Linked DNA regions of Homo sapiens: region 1 is linked to region 2. The links come from fine-mapping of genetic effects on gene expression. Tissue or cell type: gastroesophageal junction. Region 2 holds a variant in brackets; the other region holds the start of a gene. All regions are shown on one strand. Distances are from middle to middle.

Evidence for each region. PIP is the estimated chance that this variant, and not a neighbour inherited with it, causes the effect.
Region 1: it holds the start of NAT9, and the variant in region 2 is fine-mapped to the expression of NAT9 in gastroesophageal junction (GTEx, PIP 0.91).

What each region holds. Positions count from the first base shown.
Region 1 is chr17:74,772,547-74,781,598 of GRCh38, reverse strand. It overlaps NAT9 (N-acetyltransferase 9), which reads left to right and starts at 5,254. Exons shown (of 7, transcript NM_015654.5): 1 at 5,254-5,332; 2 at 5,892-5,977; 3 at 7,911-8,023; 4 at 8,560-8,703. The coding sequence starts at 5,901. SLC38A12 (solute carrier family 38 member 12) reads right to left here and starts at 5,100. Exons shown (of 10, transcript NM_017728.4): 1 at 5,022-5,100; 2 at 4,224-4,335. The coding sequence starts at 4,268. RefSeq lists a silencer at 445-614 and enhancers at 1,193-1,402, 1,493-1,542, 5,453-5,572.
Region 2 is chr17:73,965,666-73,976,669 of GRCh38, reverse strand. No RefSeq gene overlaps it. Among named protein-coding and RNA genes, the nearest start is that of LINC02074, 140 kb to the left of the region's middle. RefSeq lists enhancers at 1,623-2,320, 2,321-3,020. The variant T/G (reference allele first, on the strand shown) is at 5,749.

The DNA.
Region 1 (9,052 bases), 810 kb before region 2:
ATAAGAAAGTGACAGTTCTAGGCTAGGTATGGTGGCTCATGCCTGTGATCCCAGAACTCCTGAGGTGGGAGGATGGCTTGAGTCCAGCAGTTTGAGACTAGCCTAGGCAATGTAGCAAGACTCTATCTCTACAAAAAAATAAAAATATTAGCCGGGGACGGTGGCAAGTGCCTGTAGTCCCAGCTACTTGGAAGACTGAGATGGGAAAATCGCCTGAGCCCAGGAAGTCAAGGCTGCAGTGAGCTGTAATTGCTCACTGGGTGACACAGTGAGACCCTGTCTTAAGAAAAAAAAAAGAAAGTAATGGTTCTTAGGCAAAAGTTTTATGGGGAAACTAAACAGTATAAGAGGCATTTGTAAATTCAGGGATGCTTGAAGGTCTTGGGATGTAAAAGTCAAAGGTCTCTTGTGGATCAGGGTTTCTCAGCTTGGGCACTATGGAAATTTGGGGGCCAGGTCTTTTTTCATGATGGGGACCTGTCCTGTGCATTGTGGGATGTTTAGTGGCATCCCCGGCCTTTGCCCACTAGGTGCCGGTAACAACCTCTCTCCAACCAGTACTGTCCTGACAATCAAAAATGTCTCTAGACACTGCCTACTGTCCTCTGGGGGGCAGGATCACCGCTAGTTGACAACCACTGCTGTAGAGAGAGGTATAATGAAATAAGCATGCTCCCAAAAGAAACTTAGGAACCTTTAAGAACTTTACAAAGAAATGAATGAAGAGAGAAACTATTGGCAGTTGGGAGCAGAAATGGGTAATTGCAGTTGTCTTGCTTTGTTGCAATTTTTTCAGTTCCAAAGCAAGCCCTGTGTGTTTAGTGGGGGCTCAGGGAATCCTGCAGGGTAACGTAGGACTTCTCTGCCTTCTCAGGACTGTGGCACTCCTGGCGAGCATTCAGTCCTCTTCACCTTCTGTAAAGGTAATCAGTGATGGCCAATCACAATGAACAGACATAGAGGCAGGAAGCAAATCTGGGCTGAGCCACAGGTTGGGTCAGGAGGGGTTGTGGGGAAGGAAGAGAAAGGAGACGTTCTCTTCTGCTGGTCGTGGGACAGTTCTGTGGGCCAGACTCCTGGGAAGCAGTGGCAGAAAGCTGAGGAATAGGCTCTACTGCAGTCTTGATAATGAAGACCAATGCATGCATTCTAAACTGAGTTATCTCCAATTCTCACCTCTTCCTCTGTGGCTGCACTGGAGGAGGCACAGGCACTGCTCCCTGGGACGGCTGGCCTGCTCTCCTATGCCCTAGAGAGCTCAGTGCAGCATCCCACATGCCTCGTCTCCACCCAGCAGCCTCACTCATGACCTGCATGGGGCAGATGTCACCAGTATCTTTCAACAGCTTCCCCTCTGACAATTGTCAAAGGAAACAGAAGGCAGCAAAGATGCGGAAGCAATGACTAGGATTTCAGGGTGTGAAACAAGCCTCTCTCCTTCGAAAGCAACCGCAACAATCTTCAGCAGGAACCAGCAGGCAGAGGCACCCTCAGCGGCCGACCCTTCTGTCGGGCGTGACCTACAGCATCCTGTATTTTGATCACACAACAACCACTTCAGTTCTGTGTCACTCTCGGTCCTCATAAATGGGGAAACAGACATGCCTATCCTGAGATCCCTTAAGGGGACATGTACCTCTCTGAACCACGTTCCCGTGTTCAGCACTACCCTTGAGAGGGTGTGACATCTGAGCCACCTAGGAGGTTCGTCTGCTTGTTACAAATATTTTAGGCAGAATAATTCAAGCTAAAGCGAACATCCTTGGAACTCCTGAAGGGGAAAAGAACTCAAAATGAATGGGGCAATAGAGAGCTAAGGAGAGGCTTTGTCTTGTAAATGCGCGTGGGCTGAAGCACACGTATGAATGACCTGCCCCGTGTCTTGGTTTCCCAAGGCAGCCAGGGCAGAGCTCTGCCCACGTTGTCTTGAGCTGGGGCCTGCAGGGGAACTCAGAGCAGCCAGCATCAGCAGTGAGTTAGTTCCACAGCTTATCTGGGTTCAGTGACAACCAACTCTTCTGGTCTTACAGAGGACCAAGAATTGTTCCAGGACGGGGGAGTTAAGGAACCCTTAGGAAGAAGGTGTCTTCTCCCCTCAGAACACTGACCACTACACCTCCTGTTTGATGTCACATCATCCCCTCCCCATCCCACCCCATCTCCTCCCTACATCTCTCTTCACCAGTAGGATAAAACAACACAAGCACTTGTTTATGGCCAATGCCCAGAGCTGGCCCTCTGGGCAACAAAGACCCTGAACGAAATAAAACACAGAGGAGATGGAGAACAAAAACGGGCAGAGCGCACTGAAGCTTGCAGGCCTAACTGCCTCATTTCCTGTGGGCACATGCTGACATGTGAGAGGACCCCTTAAACAACCGGAGATACAAGAAATGGGGACATATCCAAGTGTTTTCCTTACAAAACTTAGTTACAGGGATGACTCATCTCCTTATCTCTAAATTTACAGATGTTGTAAGAAAAAGCAGGAGCCGTGGTGACTTTTACATTAATAGACAGCATAGAGATTTCATCACTGACAGCAGGAGGCTAGGAGCTGTTACATAATTCCACAAATGAGAGGGACACTATTTATTCCATTCCAGGGTTCATGAAAGACTTCACCTGAGAGGCTGGGTGCAGTGGCTCACGGCTGTAATCCCAGCACTTTGGGAGGCTGAGGCGGGTGGATCACCTGAGGTCAGGAGTTCAAGACCAGCATGACCAACATGGTGAAACCCTGTCTCTACTAAATACAAAAAATTAGCTGGGCAGGGTGGTGCATGCCTGTAGTCCCAGCTACTTGGGAGGGTGGGGCAGGAGAATTGCTTGAACCTGGGAGGCAGAGGTTGAACCTGGGAGGCAGAGGTTGCAGTGAGCCGAGATTGCACCATTGCACTCCAGCCTGGGCAACAAGAGTGGAACTCTGTCTCAAAAAAAAAAAAAAAAAAAAAAAAAAGACTTCCCCTGAGAAATTACACAGGTGATGGGTGAAGAAGGCTCCTTTATTGCCACACATGAATGGCACAGGCCCAATAGGAAGACTCTGGAATCAGGAAGGCTTTCTTCCAGCTGTGAAGGAAATGTCTTGGAGACACTTCCTTGTCCATCACACCACAATGCTAGTCTGTGAAGCTAGCAGAAACAGACCAGAGATCCCCAGGCTAGGAAGCTATGTACAAGGCAGGGCAGCTGTTGAAGGCAGGTCAAGTTCTAGAAAACTCTTGCTACTTAGGGCAGTGCTGCTTTTGCCTGGGAGGGTTGGTAGCAACCTGAGTCAACCATCTGATTATTCCAACCCTCTGGCTACTTATCCAGGCAAGAGGGCCCTGTGATGTAACAACTATGACCAATCATACGTTACATAGAGAAGATAAACTGCGTGTGTGTTGGGGGCAGCCAGAGGTAACACAGACCTAAGACAGTGAGAATCAATCATTCTAATTGTTCTAATTGCAGAGTCCACCAAACTGTAATTAGAAGTCTCTGTATGCTTTCGCTGCTTCTTACGCCATCCAAGACTATAAAAGTTGTGCAATTTAAAATTCAGTAAAGACCAAAGCGGTTTCCAACTGCTGAGATGAGCAAAACCCAGAGTCAACAGCTGTCAATCACTGTTCATCTGAAGGGCAGCACTGCAGGCAAGTGTGGTAGCCTGGAGATGAACATTATTTCTTTATTTTTGAGACAGAGTTTCGCTCTTTTTGCCCAGGCTGGAGTGCAACGGCTCGATCTCAGCTCACTGCAACGTCCGCCTCCCGGGTTCAAGCGATTCTCCTGCCTCAGCCTCCCGAGTAGCTGGGATTACAGTGCCACCATGCCCGGCTAATTTTGTATTTTTAGTAGAGACAGGGTTTTACCATGTTGGCCAGGCTGGTCTTGAACTCCTGACCTCAGGTGATCTGCCCGCTTCAGCCTCCCAAAGTGCTGGGATTACAGGCGTGAGCCACCGTGCCCAGCCCGGGATTAACATTATAAACAGCATGGCGATTTTGTTTGGCTTGACCACTCTGACAAACACCTTAAAAAGAGAATAAATCTGACTTACATTCTGAGCCACCACAGCAGCACTGTAGTCGCTGCCCCATGGAACTCCCCCATCCTGCTTCCACTATGGTCTGCTCAAGCAGCAGCACTCACTAGTCCCATCTCCAGCAAGCAATGTGCTTTTCTAGAAGCCAGGAACACTTAAGTGAGCAAAAGGTTCTATAAGTCACACTCACGTAGGAAGAGTAGAGTTCCCCGGTCTCTGTAATTTCACCCGCCATTTCCAAAAGTGAGGAAGGGCTGGCAGCAGAGGTTCCTTAGGTGCAAGGACGGCGGCTGCCGCAGCTCCTTAAAACAAAAGAGCAGGCTTCACCTATCTGATGGACTGAGACAGGGGTGGGAGGAGGCTTGCAGACTTCCCCTGCCACCTCTGGTTCTTTTATCACAGACACTTAGGGCCTCAGTATCTGTCACAAGACTCACCCCCGAGGGAGGGGTCACCCTGGATGACAGAAATCTGGACGGTTTCTTCTAACATTTCCCTTGCTGTGCAGGGCACTGCTCTGTGCCCAGCACGGATGTTTTCAATGCTGCTCGGGGTGCAAGTGATTTAAGGGGCCTCTAAAACCACTAAGTCTCACCCACCACAAGAGCCCCCTTTCCACGCTCTGGGGTGGTTATCCTCGTTTAGTTCCAGGAACCAGGAGCTCACTACCACACATGGGAGCCCAAGGAACTGTCTGCCGCCTCTGCCTAGGGCAGGGAGCTGGGGGCTTTCCTACATTGCCCTTCCAACTCCACTCTTGGCACTAAGGCCTCCTTTTTTTAATGGGGCCTCCACTCCCTGGCCCCACCTACTCTCTTAGGGTTCCCCACCCTCAAAGCTCCCTCTTTTCTCAAGAACCCCACTCCCAGCCTCTCCCTCTCTCTCCCTCCTGGAGGAGTCCCGAGTCTAGTGCCGCCCCGCCCCGCCCCAACCTATCCCGACCCGTCTCGTCCTCTCCCGCCCGTCCCGACCCGACCCGACCCAACACCTGCAGCACAGCCAGCTCCCAAGCCGCCGTCTCCCGCCGGTCCGCTGCTGCCGGCGCCAGCTGTCCAGCACCAGCTTCCGCAGCGCGCATGCGCCGGCCCCACAGCCCACCTTTTTCGCGCGCGCTGATTGGGCGCCTCGCGGGGGCGGGACCGGGATTGGGGCCTGGCGGCTGCCGTCAGCATGGCGGAAGTGGGCGGGGCGCGTTCTCACGCGCATGCGGAAGGGGCGGTAGCCGGCCGGGCCTGGGAACGTGGCTGGTTGGAGGAGGTAGATCACCCTTTCTGCGGGGGACGATTTCGTCGGTGGTAGGTGGGTGTGAGCTTGGCAGTACCCGGGTCCGCGTGGTTGGAGGGTCGAAGAGAGTGGTCTAGAACGCCACTCAAAGGGGAGGGCCTAAGACTAAGCCCGCCTTGCCCTGAAGTGGTCGGGGGCGGGGAGGGAGTGGCTAGAGCCCCGTGGGGTGGTCGCCGGGGTAAGAGGTTGGAAGTAGGTTTAAGGCAGGGCTGAAAGTTGATTCTGGGTTGGAATCCCTGGACTGGGGCAAGTAATGGGAGCTCTGGGGATACTTTGGTACTTGGTACTTGGTGCTTGGGTTTGAGGAATCGAAGTTCTGGGGAGTGGACGGAAGGAACCGGCAGAAACGGAGCCCAGGCTTGGCCTCTTGGAGTGGGAGTCAAGGATTGTTTAATTATCCTTAACCAGCCTGGTTCTCTTTCTTGCAAGAATTTTGGAGTCTGTATTCTTTGAAGTGTCTAGACGGAACTAATGACGGAAGTCAACTTAGCCCCAGCAGGAAAGCTGGAGCGCCTACCCAAAGTTGGAGGAAATTCAGGGTCCTGAAGTCTTTGCTCTCCCCATCTGCATGCAGGCTGCTACCATGAGGTTGAATCAGAACACCTTGCTGCTGGGGAAGAAGGTGGTCCTTGTACCCTACACCTCGGAGCATGTGCCCAGGTATCTTTCCCGCTTGACATGGGGTGCGTATCAGCACCCAGAGCTGTGTAAGGTACAGCCCCAGTCTCAGGGCTATTTCCCCTAAGAAGAAACATTGGTTGTGAGAAATAATTATATATGAGGGGGGAAAAAAGGCTGGGTGCCGTGGCTCACGCCTGTAATTCCAGGACTTTGGGAGGCTGTGGCAGGAGGATTGCTTGAGCCCAGCAGTTCGAGACCAGCTTGGGTAACGTAGCGAGACCTTGTCTCTACAAAAAAATACAAAAATTAGCCAGGCATGGTGGTGCACAGCTGCAGTCCCAGCTACTAGGGAGGCTGAGGTGGGAGGATTGCCTGAGCCCAGGAGATGAAGACTGCTGTGAGCTGTGATTGTACCACTGTACTCCAGCCTGGGTGACAGAGCAAGAACCTGTCTCAAAAAAAAACAAAAAAAACAAAAAAACAAAAACAAACAAAAACAAAAAAACGGCCGGGTGCGGTGGCTCACGCCTGTAATCCCAGCACTTTGGGAGGCTGAGGCGGGTGGATCATGAGGTCAGTAGTTCAAGACCAGCCTGGCCAACATGATAAAACGCCATCTCTACTAAAAACACAAAAAATTAGCTGGGCTTGTTGCCCGGCACCTGTAATTCCAGCTACTTGGGAGGCTGAGGCAGGAGAATCACTTGAACCAGGGAGGTGGAGGTTGTGGTGAGCCGAGATCACACCACTGTACTCCAGCCTGGGCAACAGAGTGAGACTTTGTCTCAAAAATAAAATAAAATAAAATAAAGGCTGGGCGCAGTGGCTCACGCCTGTAATCCCAGCACTTTGGGAGACCGAGGCAGGCGGATCACAAGCTCAGGAGAGCGAGACCATCCTGGCTAACATGGTGAAACCCCGTCTCTACTAAAAATACAAAAAAATTAGCCGGATGTGGTGGCGGGCGCCTGTAGTCCCAGCTACTCGGGAGGCTGAGGCAGGAGAATGTGTGAACCCGGGAGGCGGAGCTTACAGTGAGCCGAGATCGCGCCACTGCACTCCAGCCTGGGTGACAGATCGAGACTCCGTCTCAAAAAAAAAAAAAAAAAGAGACCAGCCTGATCAACGTGGAGAAACCCCGTCTCTAATAAAAATACAAAAAAAATAGCTGGGCATGGTGGCACATGCCTGTAATTCCAGCCTGGGCAACAAGAGTAAAACTCTGTCTCAAAAAAAAAAAAAAAAAAAATAGCAGAACCTGGGGACTGTGACTTCCTTGGGAGGAGCTGCCCATCCTCTTCCCTTTCATTCTCTCAGCTTTTTGGCCTTTCAGCAAGGAATTGCTTTATGTAAACTAAACGTGGAAGAAAAAGAAATTGTCTTCTCACCTAATTGTAAATTAGTGATGTTTCCCTGGTGCCAGTGAGTATGTTCAGTTCTTGGAGACTTAATGTTAGCTTGTCCTTGAACTCTGAGCTGATGAGTTGTGATATCTACCATTCAAAAGGCCAGGACTGAGTCATGATGGGATTCCTGTGGGGGCAGTTGGCACATGTCTGGTAGATTGGGATAGTGGTGCTGTAGATGGGTATTCTCTACTTGTAGTTTTCCGTTTGAGGGTTCCTGGTGCCCTAACTTCGTGGGATCTGTCCAGCCGCCTTTGTTGAGGTTGGCTTGCCATATACATCCCCTTCTGGAATTTGAAGAATGTTTGGTTTCAGACTGCTCCTCCGCACTGACCCGAGACAGGATAGGAAATTGGACAGATAGAACTGACTCGTCCTGCTGTTCTTGTGTAAGACTAGCTTGCTTCTGGGTCTTGTGTCTGTGGCCCCTGCCTTAGGAGCAATCATAACCCTTTGGGTCTTCTTTGAGCCCTATGTTAGCCCTGTCTGGTTCTGGACCCTCATAAGGTGTCAGACGTATGCCTCTGAATGAGTCCTCCATGTCTAAAGCCACCCCTCTGTCCCAGCAGGTACCACGAGTGGATGAAATCAGAGGAGCTGCAGCGTTTGACAGCCTCGGAGCCGCTGACCCTGGAGCAGGAGTATGCCATGCAGTGCAGCTGGCAGGAAGATGCAGACAGTGAGGAGTGCCCCCCCACTTCCCCTAGCCCTGGTACTGGGAGGGCTGACTCCACAGTCAGTCTCCAGGTTCCTTCCCTTTCCCAGCCCCGGCCATAGAAGCTTTGTGAAAAGCCTGGAAGGTGCTGGAACTCCTGTATTCTCATGGCCCTGAAGCCAGTCCCTGTGGCTGACCCTTCTGTCCTCTTCCCCACCCACTGCATCGGGCTTGGAAGGATTTGGAGAAAGTAGAGCATTTGGGGCTCTGGCTGTAAATTGAGGCCCTGCCCCTCATGTCCCTCACCACAGCCTAGTGTGGTGACTGCCCTCCTCTGTGTTCCCTGCTCTCTGAGAATTTGGTTGCTGGTTGGAGAGGCTTTTTCTGTATGAGGCAGATTTGGAATTTTGTAATGAGCTGAAGGAAGCTCTGGGACCCCCTCTTCTCCTGGCAGACTCAGAGATGCTGGTGTTCTGCAGTGCTCTGGCTTGGGTAGGAGTACCATCCTCTCTTCTCTCCTCTGGGGAGTGTGTGTGATAGCCCTGTCACCTCCTCCTCAGAGTGTACCTTCATTGTGCTGGATGCCGAGAAGTGGCAGGCCCAGCCAGGCGCCACCGAAGAGAGCTGCATGGTGGGAGATGTGAACCTCTTCCTCACAGATCTAGAAGACCTCACCTTGGGGGAGATCGAGGTCATGATTGCAGGTTTGTTTCACCTAGCCCTGCCTTCCGCTGACTCCCGGCTCTCAGATCTGCTGACTGAGCCTGCCGAGGCTGCAAAGGGTGGGCACTCACAGGGTTCACTGGGAGGCTCCATGTGGTGAGTCCAGGGCCTGGCTGGGCAGCCTGCCCACCTAGCCCCCTCAGCCTGGTGGTACACCCTCAGCCTCATCACTTTAGTCCTTATGCTTAGGCGTGAACTTAACCCTTGGTTTGGGGTAGATTCAAGTATGGTTAGTCCCATAGTTGGGGTGGGCTGGGGACCCTCAGAAAAAGGTCTCTGGAGCATGTTGTCATATTACAGGAGGAGGCCCTCCTGTTTCTGCTCCTTCAT
Region 2 (11,004 bases):
CCAACCCCAGGTCCTGTTGTCCCTGCTCCATCTCCCTAGGATACTGTCTATAGACTCCTTTCGATACTGACTGATGCTTTCCCTAATCCTGAAAAATTCCTAGAGGAGACTCCGCTGTATTTCTTAGAAATGCTTTTTTGTCAGGTCTCAGGACTCCTCAAAGAGAAGAACTTTTTTTTTTTCTTTATAAAATCATACAGCTAGAAGAGCCCCTAGGGATTATCTGGTGTAACCCCCTCCTTTTACAGATGAAAAAACTGAGGCTCAGAGAGGTGATGAGTCAGAGACCCAAATTTGCACAGTTTTCTCAGAGGCTAGGGCTCCTGACTCCCAGGCCACCACCGTTCTTTGACTCCTGATTAGCTCCAGGCAGCTCAAGGCCTGGCTGGAAGCACCAGGCCCTGTTGCATGCTCTAGGCCTCTGATAAAACCAACTCTCTTGAAATTGTTACTACTGTTGGGGCTCTAAGAATTCTCAGAGATTTCATCTAAGAATTTTCCTTTCCAGACTTGACCTTTAAGGATTCATCCTGCTAAGAAATTCTTCCATGGGGATCCTAGGGGGGGCTTGGATACATGCAAGCAAAGGGCCTGGGACTTCTGTGAATGCCTGGCGATCTATGCTTGTGCTTTGTGAGACAGCTGACCTCAGGGTGGGAGTGAAACCATCACTTCGTTGGGTGGGCTCACAGAAGACCTCTTGGGAAGGACAGGGACAGAGGAGAGTTTGGCAGGGGATTGGGAGGCTGCTCTCCCAGATGGCTGCCCGCTGGTATCATACCTCAGTCCTGGGAAGAGGTATTCCTGGACCAAACTGAGGGTCGGGCTGCTATTTCTCATGGCCCAATAACGAGATGCAGATGAACTGGGGAGGAAGAGAGTTTTTATTTCTGCAACTGGTGACAGGGAAAAGACCTGGAAAATATTGCCAGACGAACTCAAAATTACAAAGTTTTCTAGAGCTTACATACTTTCTAAGCTATGTATCTAAGTATAAGTGTACATTCATCTAAAGACATAAGTTGGGCTGGGTGCGGTGGCTCACGCCTGTAATCCCAGCACTTTGGGAAGCCGAGGCGGGCGGATCACGAGGTCAGGAGATCGAAACCATCCTGGCTAACGCGGTGAAACCCCCCCATCTCTCCAAAAAAAAAAAATTAGGCGTTGTGGCGGGTGCCTGTAGTTCCAGCTACTTGGGAGGCTAAGGCAGGAGAATGGCATGAACCCGGGAGGCGGAGGTTGAAGTGAGCTGAGATCGTGCCACTGTACTCCAGCCTGGGTGACAGAGCAAGACTCCGTCTCAAAAAAAAAAAAAGAAAAAAAAAAAAAAGACGTAAGTTGGCTGGGTGCAGTGGTTCATGCCTGCAGTACTTTGGGAGGCCGAGGCAGGCAGATCACCTGAGATCAGGAGTTCGAGACCAGCCTGGCCAACCTGGTAAAACCCCTGTCTCTACTAAAAATACAAAAATTAGCCACACATGGTGGCAGGCACCTGTAATCTTAGCTACTCAGGAGGCTGAGGCAGGAGAATTGCTTGAACCCAGGAGGCAGAGGTTGCAGTGAGCTGAGATCACACCATTGCACTCCAGCCTGGGTGATGATAAGAGCGAAACTTCATCTCAGGAAAAAAAAAAAAAAAAAAAAAGAAAAGACATAAGCGATTAACTTATTTTAATCTATACCTAAGGCCTGAGTCCTGAAGACCTTCCTCTGAAGCCTCAGTAAATTTACTTGATCTAAAATGGGTCCAGGTGCTGGGGTGATTACCCTTATCTTGTCTCGGGCTAAGTCACAGTGGTTTGGCAAGTTTCTTCAGACCCCCAGTAAAACTTGTTTAATCCTAAATGGGTCCTGTTAAGAATTCCTTTGTTATCTTGTCATGCTTTAAGGCCCAGGAAAGGCCTAGGCAAAACTCCTGGTGGGCCTTTGTTACATTCCAGCCTTTGTGTAAGGGTGCTGGCTTTTAATATTTAGCTTAGCCACTCAGTCAGTACTGAAACAGTTGTTATGGAAGCCTGCATCTGTGAGACCTGCCTGCCACAGAAGGACTAGAGTGGAAAGGAAGGGTGTTTGTCATACAAGACCCCCTGCCTGGTGCTGGGGATGCAATGGGATGCTTCCTGCACTCACCAGAACCGTCTGTGGGCCAAAGGGACATGGGATGGATGGGAGAGGGGATTGTCCCCTTGTCCCACCTGACCGCATTAGCAAAGGGGCTTCAGCCAGGTGGCATTGGCATTGTGAGGCTCTGGGGGCCATCAGTAGACAGGGCATGGGTGGCCCTAGGTGGCAATGGCAGCTGGTTTGTCTCAGCCAGATGGCCCCAGAAGCAGTTGTCTGGGGAGGTGATCCCAGGAAGCACTGATAAGGGACTAGGAAATGAGCGTGGAAGGGGAGCAGCTGGCTCTGGGTGTGTTCCAGGCCCACATCCTGCACCTGGATCCCTTCACAGGCCTCAGGGCCAGGTGCACCACATCATTCCAAATCATCCCTCCTGAGGGGTGAGGAGCTGAGATGTTTTAACATCCATAGGGGTTAATTCTCTGGCAGATCCGGCTTCCCCAGATGTGGGCTGTGAACATGCTCCTGGCTCCTGTGAAAGCTCCCAGACTGAGTCATGGGTGTTTGCAGTCAGAAGCCACGGGCGTTGGAACCGTCAAGGCCAAGGCTGAGTAGCTGGGGCACCGACAGTGTCTACTACAGGGGTGGTCCCCTGCCCGGAACTCCATGAGAGATGAAGGCGGCCCAAGCCGACAGGAGAGGGAGAGCAAATAGCGCAGGGCAGCTCCAGAGGCCTGGGGGGGGGCGGGACCCAGGCCAGGATGGGGAGAGCGAGGCACTTGCCTGCAGCCACGTTTAAAAGGGGCAGCCAAATACTCAGGAGTCAAGACCATCACACATAGTCGAAGCAGAGAAAATCTGTGATGAGCAAACTGTCTGCTGTCCACATGTGAAATAAAGACAGGATCTGGCCGGGCTGGGACTAGGGTGTGGGTTGTCCAAGTACAGGGACAAGGCCTGTCTTTAGTCCACATTTGGATATTTTGTTCGTTGTGGATAGTTTTTATTTCATGTTGGTTTCCTAAGAATGCCGCAATAAATATTATCTTGTTTAGTGAGTTTCTGGGGTCCCCCTAAATTTTCTGCCTGGACTGAGGGCCGGACTTGCTTCACTCTAGTCCGGGCCCTGTCGCACCCCTGAGGACTTCCCCCAAAGCTGGGAAGGCTGTGTCAGGGACAGAGCTGGGGCGATTGGAGCCAGGGCGCTGGGTGTGTGCACTCTTCTCTATGCTCCAAACCCTGCTGGCTCCCAAGGGTGAAGCAAATACAATCAGTCCCTGCTGGGAGGAACATGGCTGAATCTCAGAGCTGGAAGGACTAGGAGGTCACCTGGCCCAACTTTTCTCCTAATGCAGGAGGCCCCTCTGCAGCACTCTGGAGGGGAGAAGTGTCTGTTTCAGCCCACTGTGCACAGACAGGCTCTACTGTGTGGGGAATTTGTCTTCTCCGGTGATTGAAGCAGTGAACAATGTCTTCCTTGTCATTGCAGTAGACACCTCGTGGCTTCTCTGACATTGCTTATGGGCATGCTGGGGGCTGTTTAAGACCCTAACCTCTGTCTGCCCTGGGATTCAGGAGAGGTCCAGCCAGGAGGAGACGTGCGGGAGGAATGCAGGAGGCTTATGGGCAAAATAAACAGACCAACCCATCCTGAGAAAAGGAGTCGGAGTGTAGAGTTGGTTCTTGGGCACAGGTGCAGGGCCCGAGGGGAGGGGTCACTTAGTATGGTGGGGAGTGTTTTTTACGTTGTTGCCGTCTCTCTGTCCTGGGGTGTGGAGAAGGTAATGACAGACACAGGAACACACCAGCTGTTCTGGGAACTTCTGTCAGGCAAGGATACAAATACAGAAGCTCATATTGCTCTGTGGCCCACGTACCAGCATGTAATGCAAGGGTGATGGGGTACAGCTGGTGTCTGAGGACGACAGGGCAAAGTTCCAGAGAAGGCAGAGCACCTGGATGGCAAGGTAGAGCAGCTGCAGCCAGACCAGGAGCCACCGGCGAGTGACATGGGACTAGTGTACAGGGGACACCTCCCTTGTACCTGCATGAGCTTGAGGTCTCCCCTCTCCTCCCCTCCCCTGTCCTGCCCTTCCTTCCCCTCCTCTTTCCTTCTCAACTGATGAAACTCCGTTTTCACTCCTGTGTTGGTGTGACCTGGAGAAATATATGAGAAGTTTTCCAAACTGCTGTTGGGGAACGAAATGGAACCCATGAACCCATGAACCCAAAGTGCAGAAAGGGTGTGGTCAGGGGCTATGCTGACTGTCGCAGATGCGGGAGCAGCCCCAGAGCTTCAAAGGAGTGCAAGTTGCAGTGATCATCAGCGCGGTGGCCCCCGCTGTGGGCACGTGGCAGGACACACTCCCCAGCCCTGGAAGTAGGCACGGCTGTGTCTACTCTGTGAGCCAATGTGAGTCACTGCATCCCCTTACCCTGGCTGAGACAGCGTCTCTCGTAGCCATTGAAGTCACTGCAATGAGCAGAGCATCCATGAGCAAGATCATCATGGCATTTACTTAGCTTTTGGGGTTTCTTGTGGTCTGTTTTCACAGCACAGGGTGGCCTATCCTGAGGAGCATAGGAGGATAGGATCCACTTCTACTCGGCACTCATTGGTGCATCATTGTCCAGATGGGGACCCCATGCTATAGATTAGGGTCTTGGTTGCCACTCAGGCATCCATGCTGGGGGTGATGCTCACAGTTTTCCAAAAACAAATGCAAAGACACAGTGGGTTCAACTACCGCCTCCAGGCTGAGACATAAAACCGCCACTCAGATGTAAATCTCCCAGGTTTACCCTTGTATCCAGCTTTAGGCTCAGCTAAAAAAGAAAGTAATTAGTCTTTCTTGATTTCTTCCAACTCAATGGCAAAAAAAAAAAAAAATTCTAGTAAATAAATCTCTGGAACTGGAGAGGCAAAAGAACAAGCTGCATTGTTTACCCCCTCCATGCACTACAACTAATGATAGCAACAAAGAACTCGACTGACTTAGAAATTCTTTGTGATCCTTTAATACCACAGAAAAATAAGCCTGAGACAAGGATGGGGAAGTTGTAGGCACCCATGTGCGCAGGAGTGTGGCTGAATGCCTATTGTGTACCCTCAAGAGCTCTGTGGCATCTTCACAGTAGCAAAGATGATATGCAGACTCACTTGAAGCCAGCTTGATGGACATTGCAGGAGGAGTGTGGAATGACAGGTCACTATCTGGTCACCCACGCTGCACTTGCTGTTTCTTGCAAAGCGGAAATGTGATACTAGTTGAAAGCAGAGGCACAATTTGAAATTTCTTTTTCATTTTCAAGACTCTAGATTCATGGTGGAGTTGATACCTGTCTGTAAATACCCATGAATCTGGGGTTCAAAGGCCACCTGTCTGAGAGTCTGGAGCTGCCGTGGAAGGAAATGTGGAGTTGGATGTGAAAATACTTGTTCTTAGAATTGTTTGGTAGACTTCTGGATGGGCAGTGGCGAGGAGGGTAGCAAGATTTATGAATGGACAGATGGCTGAGAACTCAGTGTTCAAGAGAGAAGGAAAGCCGGGTGCAGTGGCTCATGCCTGTAATCCCAGCACTTTGGGAGGCCAAGGTGGGCAGATCACTTGAGGTCAGGAGTTTGAGACCAGCCTGGCCAACATGGTGAAACCCCATCTCTACTAAAAATACAAAAATTGCCAGGAC[T/G]GGTGGCATGCCTGTAGTCCCAGTTACTCAGAAGGCTGAGGGAGGAGAATCACCTGAACCCGGGAGGTGGAGGTTGCAGTGAGCCGAGATCGTGCCATTGCACTCCAGCCTGGGCACCAGAGTGACACGCCGTCTCAAAAAAAAAGGAAACTCAGAGATGCAGAAATACCCAACAGATAGGGATGGGAGTGGTGACAGGGAATGCTTAAAAAACAACAGGAGATTATGAAGCAGGACATGTTCTTGGTGGCTACAGAGCATCAGGGACATGAAGACCCGAGACGGTGATGGCTGGAGGCAGATCAGTTAAGTAGGCATGAGACGAGGGAGCAGACCCCTTTGGGGGTGATCTCCAGGCTGAGCACAGACTGTTGGAGAGACAGCAGAGGCTGCATCAGGAGGGAGAGGACGTCTCCTACCCAGGCAAAAGAGACACCCTGCAGGAGCTAGAGCCAGAGAGGAGCCCAAGCAGGTGACGTGGGATGAGAGGACGGAACAGAGGGGCACCAGGAGAGGACTATCTCAAACTCGGGCAAAACATCTCATACCCTCTCTAAAGAGATGGCTCCCACTCAGGGATGACAATGAAGCGTGTCTGCAGTGATGGTGGGGGTGCATGGTGGAGGGAGACTGCTCAGTAGGCATCTATATGACACACACACAGTAGGCACTAAATAAATGCCTGTGGAAACTGATGAATACATTGCAGTAGACACAGTCGTACCAGTTTTGCGCTAGGAGCTGTTGCGTAACGGCAGCTATTCTAGAGAGTTATGGCTGTGATGAAATCAGCTGGGCTGCTGAGCGGCTCAGGAGAGTGAGGGCTGGTAGGTTTGGGACTTGGAGTTTACAATGAAGAGGAAGTGAACTAAACTAGCAGTGACCGCTGTGGCCATCTCTGAACATGAAAATGAGCAGCAGGAAAGGAGTGGGGCAGGGTGAAGCCTCCTCACAAAGACACACTCTAGGGTTGCACAAAGCGGTGGGTTGACTCCCCAGAAAACACCTCTTCGGGCCAGTGCAGAATAAAGGCAAATTCTGGTAAATATTGACCCTGTGCTCTCTGAAATTCAGGCCACTTCTTGCCACCACTGTGCTAGTGATCTCGGACCAGCAGGGTGGACCGGAAGAGGACTTTCGTGTGACTTTGCCATGTCTTGCTAGTGTAGCTAACATTAATTGAGCACTTAACATGCACCAGACATTGTGTAAGTGCTCTACAGGAATTAACTCTTCTAATCCTATGTGCCAGTAATAATTGCCTCGTTTTTACAGCTGAGTCAACTGAGGCACAGAGAGGCCATGAGCTAACCCATGTAGACCCAGGAACTGAGCACAGGCAGGTGGTACCAAGGCTTGTTTTCAGTCCCTTCCCTGTAGCTGCCTCTTCGAGTGCATGCATGTGTGTGGGTGGCTCTGGTTCCATGGAGGGCACGGCCACTGGACCCTTCAATCTTTGATGCTGCTGTTGCCTCCCTACCCGGCTCTGGAAGGCATGAGAGTATGGACTGTGGAATCGCATTTGCTGGGGTTTGGATCCCAGCTCTGCTTCTTAGGATTTGGGCAACCTCATTTATCTCATCTGTATAATTTGTGCTGTGAGGATTAGAGAAAACACATACATACAGTGTTTTGTATGTCTTGTGATGTGTAGTGGGTCTTCTATGAGAAGCCTGCACTCAGTCAACACTTGTTGTTCCTGTCCTAAGAAACATCCCCTGATGGAATTAACCAGTTCCTGCAGTGTGAGCATCTGCCTCTTCTTACCTTGGTTTTGGATCCTAATAGCATCCTTAGAGCTGATTCTTGGTTATGCCTATTATCAGTGCCTGGGATAGATTTCTCCTTGTTCACCCAGTAACTGACCTTGAATGGCCTCTATGGTCCTGACTCTTGAGTCACTGGCTGAATCAATTTGGTGTGTGCCTTCCAGACAGAGGAGGCCCGTGAGTGATGGCTGGGAGAGGAAGGAGCTCCATGCAGTGGGGCAAGTTCAGGCAGCTTGGTTGTGCTGGGGCATAAATTACAGAGAAGAGAGGCTGGAGGGGGCGCCAGTTTCAAGGAAGCCCTTGTGGTACAGCTTAAGGAGCTTGAGCTTGATCCTGCACTCAATGGAATGGAAGCATTTGAGGGTGTTACATAGGAAGGCAACCTGGTTACATCAGGGAGCTCACTCCAGTACCTGTGCGGAAAATGGGTTGGAGGCAAGCAAGACTGGAAGCCAGGATGCCTGCTAGGAAGTTGCTGCTATTGCCTCGGCATCAGCTGAAGGAGGGGCCCTACAGGATTTGGCCTCATTCAACTTCTTGGGCTCACTTCCTGCCTCCCTGCCTCCTGCTCTCTCTGCTCCTGCCTCATTTTCCCCTTGTCATTCCTCAAATTCAACAAGGATGCTCCTGCTGCAGACATTTGCCCTTACTGCAGCCTCCACCAGACACACTTCTCTAAGGTGTGTGCATGGTCTTCAGGTCTCTGCTCAAATACTATCTTACTGGGAAGGGTTTCTTAAGCACTCTGCAATAAATAACTCCTTGACTCCCTCACTTTCTAGCCTTTGATCCTACTCTATTATTTTCTTTACTTTCTCTCTTTATTTTTAGAGACAGGGTCTCACTCTGTTGCCCAGGCTGGAGTGCAGTGGTGCAATCCTAGCTCACCTGCAGCCTTGAGCTCTTGGGCTCAAGGGATCTTCCTGCCTCAGCTAGGACTATAGGCCTGAGGCACTGCACCTGTCTTCGGCTTCTCTGTTATTTTCTTCCTCAGCACTTATCACTACATGATATTATATTTATCCATTTGTTTATTATCTGTCTCACTGCACTATAATATAAGCTACTCCAGGCAGGGCCAGTGGCTATTTTGTTCACTGCTGTCTTTATACAGGTAGACCCTCAATAAGCATCGAATGAGTGAATGAATCCAAGTGATAACTTAATATGAGGGTGGCTCAACCTAATCTGCAATGAGCAGGGAGGCATTTCAGGGAAGGATTCAGTACTGCCTGTCTGCACTCACTGGCAAACATCTGATTTTTAGTTCTAAGCACTAAAGGCAAGTCTCCTTCATGGGTCCCGGGGACTGGTTCATCATTAGAAATAAATCCCCCATAGCCTTGTGCAGGTAGTTTGTAGGGACAGGCTTGCACAGATAGTTGGGGAGCAGCTGGACTCCTGTGCAGACAGTTTGTGGGTTGTTCCTCCTGCGATGACATTGTTCTTCAGTGGTAAGTAATTAGAGCCTCAGGGCCACCTCTCATTTTGTGGATAAGCACGGCTCCAACACTTTAGGCGAAGTGCCCATGATAAGAAACAGAACATTGCAATGTGCTCGCACAAAGCAAAAAGTCAATAACTGCTTGACATTCTGAGAAGCAGATGTTCACTGGTAGATCCAACACCTTGGAAGGTCTTTTCTCAGTGGGCACTAAAGTGGTTCAACGATGGTTGCCTTTTATGGAAGATAAAATGAATGAAAAGCCCTGGGCAGGTTGGAAGCTTTTGTCCAGTTTTGGGGGCAATGCAATCAGGTTTGCATGAATTTCATCTTAGGACAGGTGAATGCAAACAGCATTAATTCATTAGCCTAAGGAAGTGACGATGGAAGTTATGATGTCACAGGTTTTCTCATCTGGATACTAGATGATTTAAAGGGACTTATTTCTTGGATGATCCTGTAAATTGGAGGACTGCATTGAAAAGTGGTCTTGCACCAGGAATCCTATGAAGTATAGTTTCCATGAAACTGTAGGAAATTGAAGCAGTCCTCAGAAATTCTGAACTGAAGATGCCATGTTCAGGGTCACTCTGGGTGAGTGACAAGTATCTAGACAACTATTACTGATGTGGATAAATTTGGGGAATTTCTTTTTGCTGGTAAGACTTTTCCTCCAACTGGAATTTCAAGTGGTTAATGGTAGAGACCTCAAGTGCATTGTATACAGATCTTAAGGAAGCAGGGGAGGAAACAGAATTCTTGAGAGTCTTCTGTTAGCAACAGTATGATAGGTACTTTCTATACTTTAAAAATTTAACTTTCTTAACAACCCTACAAAATAGATACTATTATCCCAAATTTACAGATGAGAAAACTGTGGCTTAGAGCAGTTAAAAAAAATTCTCAAGACCACACAGCTAAAAAAATGGCAAGACTGGGTTCCCTACCCCCTGCCATATGCAATATGCCTTCTGAGCACCCGCATGCACATCTATCATCCGATTACTACTGAACTGTTAGGCTTCTGTATGAGCATGATCTATGCATTTAAGGAGGTGGTTTAAGGAGAATTTTGGGGGGTGGGTATAACAATGGGGGTGGGTATGATAACAATGCTGATTCGATTCTCAAGCTCTAACATTTCTTTCCATGGAAGAGAAAGCAAAAGTTGTTTCTAGGGATTGAAGGTAATTGAAGGAAAGGTTAGGTCAAGTTAGGACTGTGATATTTTCCTCTTACATAGTCTGTGTTCCTTAGTAATCACTGACAACTGTAACCTAGAGGTACTGATGACTTTGGACTCTGACAGCTAATGGTATGAGGCCAGGCTTTGCGTTTCCTCTATGCTATCAAGAAGCTTCTCCTCCTAAGATGATATGCCTTAATGTTAATAGTCTTCAGCAACACAAACTGAGTGACTATTTCAGTTTACTATAAAAAATAAAAACACAAGGTGGGAGCTACTGCCTTCTGGTAGTAGTGTAGTAATTTGGTCACAGTAAGTCTTCCACAGATGACAATTATAAACTCTGAGCAAAACACAAAACAGCACAGAGGAATACCCAAAAGTAGGCAGAAACCAGAGGTGAGTCTGCCCTTGTGAGACCGCATGAATGATATTTGTGAGTTGGAAGCGTTTTGCCTGGAACTCCCAAATCTGTGCATAAATTGAGGTGGTAGAAAGCTACAACTGTATTGGCTTGAGGTATCAGAGGACAGCATTCCGGACAGGAAGAAAGAAAGTTGGCCGGGTGCAGTAGCTTACTCCTGTAATCCCAGCACTTTAGGAGGCCAAGGTGGATGGATCACCTGAGGTCAGGAGTTCAAGACCAGCCTGGCCAACATGGTGAAACCCCATCACTACTAAAAATACAAAAATTAGCCAGGCATGGTGGTGGGCGCCTGTAATCCCAGCTACTTGGGAGGCTGAGGCACAGAATCGCTTGAACCCAGGAGGCGCAGAAGGTTGCAGTGAGCTGAGATCATGCCACTGCACTCCAGCCTGGGTGACAGAGCAAGACTCTGTGTCAAAAAAAAAAAAAA